Homo sapiens: one gene and its partner. The protein of the gene in region 2 purifies or fractionates together with the protein of the main gene of each other region. This does not show direct contact. Each region holds a gene or a part of one and is shown on either strand. Other genes may lie near its edges.

The links.
Region 1: the proteins of NUBP1 (region 2) and ZNF507 purify together in Homo sapiens (affinity purification with mass spectrometry; one large-scale study listed by BioGRID and IntAct). This does not show direct contact.

What each region holds. Positions count from the first base shown.
Region 1 is NC_000019.10:32,344,258-32,349,143, reverse strand, and holds the start of ZNF507 (zinc finger protein 507), read right to left. Parts: upstream 3,535-4,886; 5' UTR 3,361-3,534; intron 1,900-3,360; 5' UTR 1,806-1,899; intron 1,660-1,805; exon of another isoform or gene 1,514-1,659; intron 31-1,513; exon of another isoform or gene 1-30. UniProt on the Homo sapiens protein: May be involved in transcriptional regulation.
Region 2 is NC_000016.10:10,760,095-10,765,062, reverse strand, and holds part of NUBP1 (cytosolic Fe-S cluster assembly factor NUBP1), read right to left. Parts: intron 4,152-4,968; exon of another isoform or gene 3,700-4,151; coding exon 3,589-3,699; exon of another isoform or gene 3,495-3,588; intron 3,307-3,494; coding exon 3,204-3,306; coding exon of another isoform or gene 3,200-3,203; intron 2,547-3,199; exon of another isoform or gene 1-2,546. UniProt on the Homo sapiens protein: Component of the cytosolic iron-sulfur (Fe/S) protein assembly (CIA) machinery. Required for maturation of extramitochondrial Fe-S proteins.

The DNA of each region.
Region 1 (4,886 bases), on a different chromosome or scaffold from region 2:
GTTCCTCAATAGAAGGCTATTTCTTTCCAGGTAGGCTGCTCTCCAAGACCCTTCTTCTGATTCTGATGCCTCTCCCTCTCCTAATGCTGCTAGCTCCAGATAACTGCATTATGCTGTGGTTTGCTTATTGAAGTCCAACACCTTTATTACTAATATCTTTGTAAATATACCTTCCTTGAATTATCCTCATTTCAACGTGCCATTTGCTTCCTTGGAATACTGCTGATACAAGTTGACACAAGGGTAGCAGTGACCAGAAAAGCAGCCATGACATGACTATATTTTTAGAAGTAAGAATAAGCATGCTATCTGGGGGTGAGTGAAAAGATCGATATGGCTGAATAGGAAAGTTCACCAGGAGGAAAGAAGACGACAGGCATTAGCAAAACAGGAGATTTCTTGTTTGTAATGTTTAGACATAACAACATTAAATATATTAAATTGTTACCAATAAATAAGTAATAAACAAAAGTTGTATCCCAAACCAGAAAAGTTCTATAACCCTTTCCACCAACTCTCTCAAATCTTTCCTTGACAACAGTATTCCACAGGCAAATGCTTCTAATTAATATCTTTCTCACAAAAAGTTAGGAGCCAAATTATTTCAGTTGTCTTTATTTCCTTATAATTTGCTATTTGGTTATTTGGGTATCTAATTAGTTCTTTATAATTACAGTAGTATGGTCATCATGAGTAAAATCAAGTTGAACAATTCATGTGGGCCTGGAGAAAAGGCTGTAATTTTCTGTGTTTATATGAAGAAAAGTACAATATGATACAAAAGAACCTTCTCTTTCAGAACAAGAATTTGTTTTTTCCAAAATGGGAAAAAAAAAAAAATTGTGCTATAAAAGTAATGGCCAATAAATTCCCCATTCTTCCAGATTATTGTAATTCTAAAATATGACAAATTTATTTTGCTCCAGCCAAAAGAAGGCAGGGGACATAAGCTCAAGGGTCCCTCCCCTAAAGTGCCCTCAATTAGCTGTGTGACCTTAGGCAAGTCACTGTCTCTGTGAGTTTTAGATTGCTCAGATGTAAAACAAGAGGGTGAAGCTAGATGAACTTTCAGGTCCCTGAATTATAAACTGTCTATAAAGTTACCTGGAAACTGCTTACACATTATTTATAGATTTACCTCACTATATTGGCTACAATTTATTTGATTTAAAATCTTCTGAGCCCAAGGTAATTATTAATTACCACTAAGAAAAAAATGAGTATAAATATCACAAGTATATGGAGTTTCATAGTCTAGAGTTTCTTAGTTGGCACATAGCCTGAGAGAATATTCTAATTTGGCAGCTGCAATGAAGACATAAGGTCTAACTAACATTAACCAATATTCAGATTTACTGTCATTTATTGAGCACCTATAATGTGCCAACCAGAATGCTGGGGACTACAAAAATGACTGAGGAAATCCTTGCCCATGAGGTGCAAGTCTAGGGAGTAATGCCTCTGTAGATTTTGTGTAATATTCAAATTTTGTGTATTTTTTTTTTTTTTGCAGATGAGAAACCTGAGACTCACAGACACAAAGTGGTAACTGGTTTAAGAACAGGAATCCAGGCCAATCTCACTCTAAAACCATGCTTTCTCTAATACACCAATTTTCATCTTAATTCTCAATGAGAATAAAAATGTACAAAATATCAATACTGAAAAGAGTAACAGCTCCTTACAGCTAGGCTCTATCAAACATGTTAGTGGTATCTGATCCTCATAACTCTTTAGGACAGGCTAGGTGGGTGTTATACAGTCTTATAAATAAGGAAACACTCAGTGTGGTTTAAGTGACTTACCCAAGGTTACATGGCTGTTAAGTGGCAGAGCCAGTGTCTTTCAAATCAATTCCTGAAATTAATACAGTCCCTTGGATCAATCTTCAAAATCCAGCTGTGGCCAAGAACGAAAGTATATAGTATCAAAACATTTCTCTTTCTTGGTGAAACAAAGTAATGATTTTTTTTTTGGCAGTGAAAAATTTCTCAATATTCCATGTAAAAAGAAATTCAGAGGAATGTTCATGCAACCCTATTACGTAATGCAAATTTAAATAATTTATCTAACAAGCCGACTTGAGGATTTTGCAGAAGTTAGGAAAAAATAGCTCTGGAAACTTCTCCCAATAATTGTGTATTTTGTTTTACCTCAGAATTTAGGTACTGGACTCAACACTATTGGTTTTACTGACAACATTTTCTAATGAGAATGGAACAATAAATTGCACATTGCTATTTTAATCTAAACTAAAAATACAATCTAACGAGTGATTCTGCAACCAAGCACAATAGGCAGAAAAACAGCATAAAAAGATATGACACAGTGGTGTGACCTATATATCTTCTAACGCAGTTTCCTACTCTGGTCCTACATTTCTTTGCCACTGTTTCTTATACTGGCTGGAATAAATCTAAAAGATAAAAAAATGCTTATTCGTTTCACCTAGAATGCAACTACCTTATCGATTACGGTTAAGTAAAATAGCTCACTGCCAGGGCAGAAAAAACATCTTTAGGGCTCCCCTGAAGTTAATTTTCAACGAGTTAGTGAGGTAAAGGAATGAAGGGCCAGGCTTTCTTTTAATCAATAATGCAACCCATACTCTGAGTGAGAGGGGAGTACTGGAGAAAGTGCAAACTCAAAGAGGTGATAAATCCAGTAATTGCCTGAGAAGAGCGATGCAGACTGATAGCAAATTACAGCCCACTGCAGAAACTTAAAAATACCGCCTTGGGGTTGGGAAAGTGGCCGCCACCTTATTAATCATCCCGGCCTTCTACACAAACCATTCATTCCGATGCCCCCAGGTCTTAAGAGGTGGGAACTTTCCCTGATGGTCTCCGTGATCTCTGGAGACATCATTCTATCTCCAGAGGATGGTAATAAATGCAGAAGACCAGGGCTGCGTTTCTGTAGTAGCTTTTTCTACACCACGCACTGGCTAAAGGACTGAGGTGATGGGTCGGGAATGAGGGAGCTTAGAAAATTAATCAAAAGATGCTGTGAGAACATCGTGGCTGGGTCCATCCCGGCTGGCCTAAGCGATCTCACATTTGCAGAAAGAAGCAACGCCTGGAGAAGGAAGCAACGCCTGCGGGCGGGCCGGGCTGGTGACAGTATGCAGGGAGCAGCAAGTTCCCCCCACCCCCAGCTGCAGGGCAAGCCCAGAGTCTCCGCAGGCCTTGCTGCACAGAAGACAGAACCGGGACACGGAACTTGGGGCTTGTGGCTAGCACCGGGCGGGGGTCGGCCGGCTGAGGAGGAAGCGAGCGCCGGCAGAGGCCTGAGGGGAGGATGCACATGGCCGGCGGCGGCGCTAACAGCGGGCGGAGGGGCGGCCCCGGGGCGCGGTACCTGCGGTCAGGCGGCGGCTGCTGCTTCCGCGAGCCTCGTTTGGCCAGCCAGGACCCGGCCGTGCCCTCGCCCTCGTCCTTGCCCACCTCTCTCCCGGCTCTTTTCCCTCTTTTCCCCCGGTTTCCCCCTCCTCATCCGGAGCTCCAAAATGGCGGCGCTGGGGACGGATCACGTGAGCCGCGGGTGGGTCAGGTGACCCGAATGGCGGGCAGCGGGGGCGGGGCGAGGCTCAGGCCCCGCCTACCGGCGTCCCGGGCCGCCGAGGCTGGACCCGCGAGAGGGAGGCTCCCCAGCCGGTTTAGCCCCTTGCAAACCCTGGCTCCCGGGCGGGGTTCGGGCCCAGTTGTCTGGCTCTCATGGCCCCTTCCAGACGTCTAGATTTAGAAGTCACCGTGTATTCACTTTGGCATCTCCCCACGTCGCCTAAATCCGCTGTGGGCTAGCCTTATCACCCCACTCACCCCGCAATTGGCTTTCAACAATGGGCATTGGGGTTTTTTTTTTTTTTTTCTTTAGCCTTGTGCTTCTGGATTTGTATTAGTTCCTTTGGTAGGACTGTACATTTCAAGGTGTTCTTGGCTAAAATATAGAGGTCCTAGCCAGATTCGCAGCTTGGCGTTAAGGGGTGCCTGTTAAGGGCCAGAGCTGGCCCTGGGGAATCTCTTTGCTTGAGAGATTCAGGATTTTCAGGGTTTGTAGGACCAGACCCAGTAACACAAGCTCAGCCCTCCGAGGGCACGATGGTGTTTGTCATTCGGATCTGTTCTATGAAAGATACTAGGGTGGTTCTCCTGCTAACAGTGAAAAACGGACTAAGTGAAGCATTCCAGCCAATTTCACCAAAAATGCTGGATAGTTTTGCCGTATTAGGAACTACGCAGCATGGTGCTTGGGTCTGGACTCCGGGTGAGCGGTGGGCATGAGCAAGGGTGTAAAACTGAAGATTCTGGCCATTGTAGTGGAATGGACTCATTTGGTGAGATACCTCTTGGGGATCTGTTCCAGATCTTTTTAGAGGCCTTTACAGCTGGCTGGGCTGTCCACGGTCCTGGGAGGAAGATCCAACAAAATTTAGAATCAGACAGGCTGATAATTCCTGTTACTGTATTTCAGAATTCAAATTCATCTGAATTTGGGGGTTAGGAAACCAGCAAAGTTAGAATTTTTATTTTTATTTTTATTTTATTTTTTTGAGTCAGAGTCTCACTCTCTCCCCAGGCTGGAGTGCAGGGGCGCAATCTCGGCTCACTGCAACCTCCACCTCCCAGGTTCAAGTGATTCTCCTGCCTCAGCCTCCCGAGTAGCTGGCACTACAGGGCGTGCCACCATGCCCAGCTAATTTTTTTGTATTTTTAGTAGAGACGGGGTTTCACCATGTTGGCCAGGATGGTCTCGATCTCTTGACATCATGATCCGCCCGCCTCAGCCTCCCAAAGTGCTGGGGTTACCGGCGTGAGCCACCGCGCCCGGCTGCAAAGTTAGAATTCTGCTATTCCACAGAATCCTTTGCCAATTAGACCAAATAG
Region 2 (4,968 bases):
CCTAGCTAGTGACTGAGACGAGCATGGCACTCGGGCAGGCACGCTTCTGGGAGATGCAGCCCCTCTGATGGGTAAGTGGGCTCAGGAATGCCCTGGTGGCTGTGCCCAGCTTTCCTCGACAGCAGCCAAGACACTCCAGCAGACAGATGCTCCAACAGACTGACATACTCCAGCAGACTGAGATGCTCCAACAGACTGACATACTCCAGCAGACAGATGCTCCAACAGACTGACATACTCCAGCAGACTGAGATGCTCCAACAGACTGACATACTCCAGCAGACTGAGATGCTCCAACAGACTGACATACTCCAGCAGACTGAGATGCTCCAACAGACTGACATACTCCAGCAGACTGAGATGCTCCAATAGACCTACTCCAGCAGACTGAGATGCTCCAATAGACTGACATACTCCAGCAGACTGAGATGCTCCAATAGACTGACATACTCCAGCAGACTGAGATGCTCCAATAGACTGACATACTCCAGCAGACTGAGATGCTCCAATAGACAAATACTCCAGCAGAATGAGATGCTCCAATAGACAAATACTCCAGCAGACTGAGATGCTCCAATAGACTGACATACTCCAGCAGACTGAGATGCTCCAACACACTGGCATACTCCAGCAGACTGAGATTCTCCAATAGACAAATACTCCAGCAGACTGAGATGCTCCAACAGACTGGCATACTCCAGCAGACTGAGATGCTCCAATAGACTGCCACACTCCAGCAGACTGAGATGCTCCAATAGACAAATACTCCAGCAGACTGAGATGCCAAAAAGCAAAGTACACTGAGGTGCTCCAGCAGGCTAAGATGCTCCCATGGGCTGAGATGCTCCAGTGGGCTGAGACGCTCCTTCGGGCTGGGATGCTCCCGTGGGCTGAGATACTCCTGTGGGCTGAGATGCTCCTTTGAGTTGGGATGCTCCCGTGGGCTGAGATACTCCTGTGGGCTGAGATACTCCCTTGGGCTGGGATGCTCCAGTGGGCTGAGATGCTCCTTTGGGCTGGGATGCTCCCATGGGCTGAGGTACTCCTGTGGGCTGAGATGCTCCTTTGAGTTGGGATGCTCCCGTGGCCTGAGATACTCCTGTGGGCTGAGATACTCCCTTGGGCTGGGATGCTCCCATGGGCTGAGATGCTCTTGAGGGCTGGGATGCTCCCTTGGGCTGAGATGCTTCCAGGGGCTGAGATACTCCTATGGGCCGTGATGCTCTTTCGGGCTGATATGTTCCTTCCCCCACTCCTTCATCGTGGGCTAACGCTCTCCCTTGTCATTTTCTCCCACAGATGTTTCCCCTGACAAACGTCCTGCCCACCAATCCCATCTCGGCAGAGCTGAACTGTGGCAGAGGTGCAGGCTGGCAGGAATGGATGTGCCCTGGGCTGCTGCAAGCTCCTGTCCCCAATCACATCCATTCATGCAGCCCAACTGCCTCCAGGGGCCTCAGAGGGCAGCTCTCATCACCACTTCCGGCCACTGCAAAAGCTGCCTGGTGAGTGTTTTATGATGCTGGGGAAGGTTGAGAAAGCAGCTGTACTTTTCTGCATGTTGTTGGGGAAATCACATGCCAGAGAAGTATTGTGGGATGTGGGAATAAGGGAAAAAGGATTTGGGGACACAGCCTCCTGGGCACATGGGGTCTCTGGCGTTCTCCCGGGCTGTTCCCATCTTCAGAGTGGCCCTCGCACCCTACCCCCCTACCACTTCCTCGAGGCAGCCATCCCCCAACACTGTCCTCCTGGCTCCCGCTTTCTGCACGGCCCCTTGGCAATCCTGTCCATGTCCTGTGGCTTCAAAACTCAACTGCACGGACATGAACCACCTTCTCCTGACGGACCCCAGAACCTGCTGACAACCTGAGCCCCCGAGCCCCTTAGCCGCAGCACCCCAGAGGGCCCGGCCTCCCTCTACCACCCCTGCTTCACTGTCTCTGAGGGACGGACCCTCCTCCAGGTGACTTGTACTGGCAGCAGGGACAACCTTGACCCTCAGATGCCGTCACTTTCTCTCTTGTGTGTGTCCCTTCCTTTCTACACCAACGCCAGAACCCAGGGCCTCATCCTGAACCCCTATCCCAGGGCAGCCACTCCTGAGCCTCCTGTTCCCAGGCACATGACACTGACAGTCGTTTCCCACAGGCTCCCATTCTCCCCATGCAGCCCTTCCCCAAGGCTCCCCACGTGGCCTCCGCCCTCCCCGCCTCCAGGCTCTCCACGGGCCCCGCCCTCTCCCCAAGCACGCGGCCCCCACCCTCTCCTGGCCAGGCCATACTTCACCCGCCCGGCCCCTCTCTCCTGTCCCGGCACAGACACCTCACACTGGCCTTGGTTCCCTGACAAATGGAGTGGAAGTTCCGAGGCATGGGTGCAGCCGGCACTCCTGGATCCCGGCCTCCCCTCCAGCCTTCTCTCTCTGTTCTCCCCTCAGACCTAAAGGCGAGTGCTGGACGCCCCGCAGGAGCCCCACTAAAGGGCCCCAGTAACGGAGGCCCGCCCGGCTCCGCGGTCCTGGGGGACAGCAGCCTCCTGGGGGAGCAGCTTCGAGTGTAGGCCCTGCCCAGCGCCCCGCGGCGAGTGGGCGCCCGGCGGGCGTGTGGGTGGAGACGTGAAACCCCGTCCCTCCTTCAGCCTCAGGGCCACTCAGGGAGTGGGCATCTCTTGGGATCCTGGGAGACCCACGTACTTAAGAAGAGCATTTTTTGGGAACTTGGCCCCTGCTCGCAGGCCAGTGATCCGCGTTCCGGTCTGTCCCGGTGCTGGAGACAAAGGGGCCTCATCTGTGCCGTGCTGGCTTCTCCGGGCACAGGAGGCCCGGCCCCTTCCTAAGGGATTTTCACCTCAGGCCGCCTTCCTCTGTAACCTGGACGCCATGTGCATCCCCTGGAGCCGCCCCTCTATCGGGTGCCCTCCTCAGTCCCCTGCCACCACCACCCTCACCAACCTCTACCCCATTCTTCCAGGCCTCACCCCTCTGCCTGAGGCCTGCTTGCTCCCGCTACCTGCCCGCAGGGGTCTCGGCCTCTCTCCCGGTGGCCTCTTGGGGTGCCAGCTGGAGGGTGGGTCTGGCTCCAGCGCCCCATTGACCCTCCTCCTTCCATTGCCCCTCTCTGTAGCCGCCCCCTGTTGTGCCCGACCCGTGCCTGTGGGGCTGACCGAGGAGTGAGGTGCCGCCCCACACTGGGGTCACCCACCTATGAGCGGATCCAGGGGCACTCTGCCGAGGAGAGGGACCTCCAAGTCCTGGCACATGAGCTCCGCGCCCCCGGTTGTGGGAGGGAATATCTGAGATTCTTTCTGCAAGGCAAATTCAAAGGGGAGGAAACATAATTTTTTTGCAGAATCACAAGGATGGACCACATTTTAAAGAAACTTAAAAAAAAAAAAAAGGCTTAGTTTGAATGTGGAACCCTTAACACCTAAAGAACTTTCCTTTAGTCAGCAGAAAGGGATTTTAATTGTGATTCCACTTCCCAAAATGACAGGGAAAGCAGAAATAGTTTGCAGAGCAGCCTTCCGATCGTTTCCTCATCCATGAGAGCAAGATCTTGCTCGCCTGGCAGCCCCACGCGCCCTCACCTTGCACTTAGGACAGATGAAGCCACTCATGTTCTCCACCACCCCGATGATGGGCAGCTTCACCTTGCGGCAGAAGTTGATTTCTTTCCGGACATCCTGGAGTGACACCTCCTACGAAGGTGAAAAGACCAGTGATTCCAGCATCAAAGTGCGAGAAAGGGAATGTCTGTGCAACCGAGGGGATGGCTGCAATGCAGTGGATCTGCGATCATAAAGCCTTAGAGGTTTCTGCCCTGATAGGGTTTGGCTCTGTGTCCCCATCCAAATCTCAGCTCGAACTGTAATCCCCATCATCCCTACATCCCTACAGGAACAGGCAGTTCCTGGTGGGAGGTGATTGGATCATGGGGGCAGTTTCCCCCATGCTGGTCTCGATAGTGAGTTTTCACGAGATCTGATGGTTTTGTAAGTGTTTGACAGTTCCTCCTACACACTCTCTCTCTCACTGCTGCCACTGTGTAACATGTGCCTGCTTTGCCTTCCACCATGATTGTTAAGTTTCCTGGGGCCTTCCCAGCCATGCAGAACTGTGAATCAATGAAACCTCTTTCCCTTATAGGTTACCCAGTCTCAGGCAGTTCTTTACAGCAGTGTGAAAATGAACTAATGTATGCCCTCTGCCAAATCCATATTTATTTAGTACCTACTAGTGCTAAGCCCTGTTTGTTCGAGGTGCTATTTACTTCCCACACAGCCAAATAGCAAGAAATCAACCTAAAAGAAAATGACTTTTTTTTTTAGAGACAGGATCTCACTGCTGCCCAGTCTGGAGTGCAGTGGCATAATCATTGCTCACTGCAGCCTTGACCTCCTGGGCTCAGGCAATCCTCCTGCCTCAGCCTCCAGAGTAGCTGGGACTACAGGCATGTGCTACTCTGCCTGGCTAACTTTTTAATTTTTTATAGAGATGGTTGTTGCCCAGACTGGTCTTAAGCTTCTGGTGTGAAGTGATCCTCCTGCCTCGGCCTCCCAGAGTGTTAGGGTTAGAGGCGTGAGCCACTGTGCCTATCTGAAAATGACCTTTTAACGCATCTACATGCTCCATGTCCCTATACTATACTATATTAAGCCAGTGTGTGCACTGTTTTCTAGACCAGAGCTTGGCAAACCCCAGCCTGGGGGCTGAATCTGGCTGGTTTTATAAATAAAGTTCCTCCGGAACCAGCCATGCCCGTCCCTCTAGGCACCGTCTGTGGCTGCTTCATGCCACAGTGGCACGGCTAAGGGGCTGGGACAGGGACCGTGGGGTCCGCAACGCCTACTTCCTATCTGGCCCTTTACAGAAAAGTTTGCCAATCCCTGCTCTAGATAATTATAAACACAAACAACTGACTAAAAGGAAATAAGGAATACTGCCCAATGTGGACAACTTTGCATTTC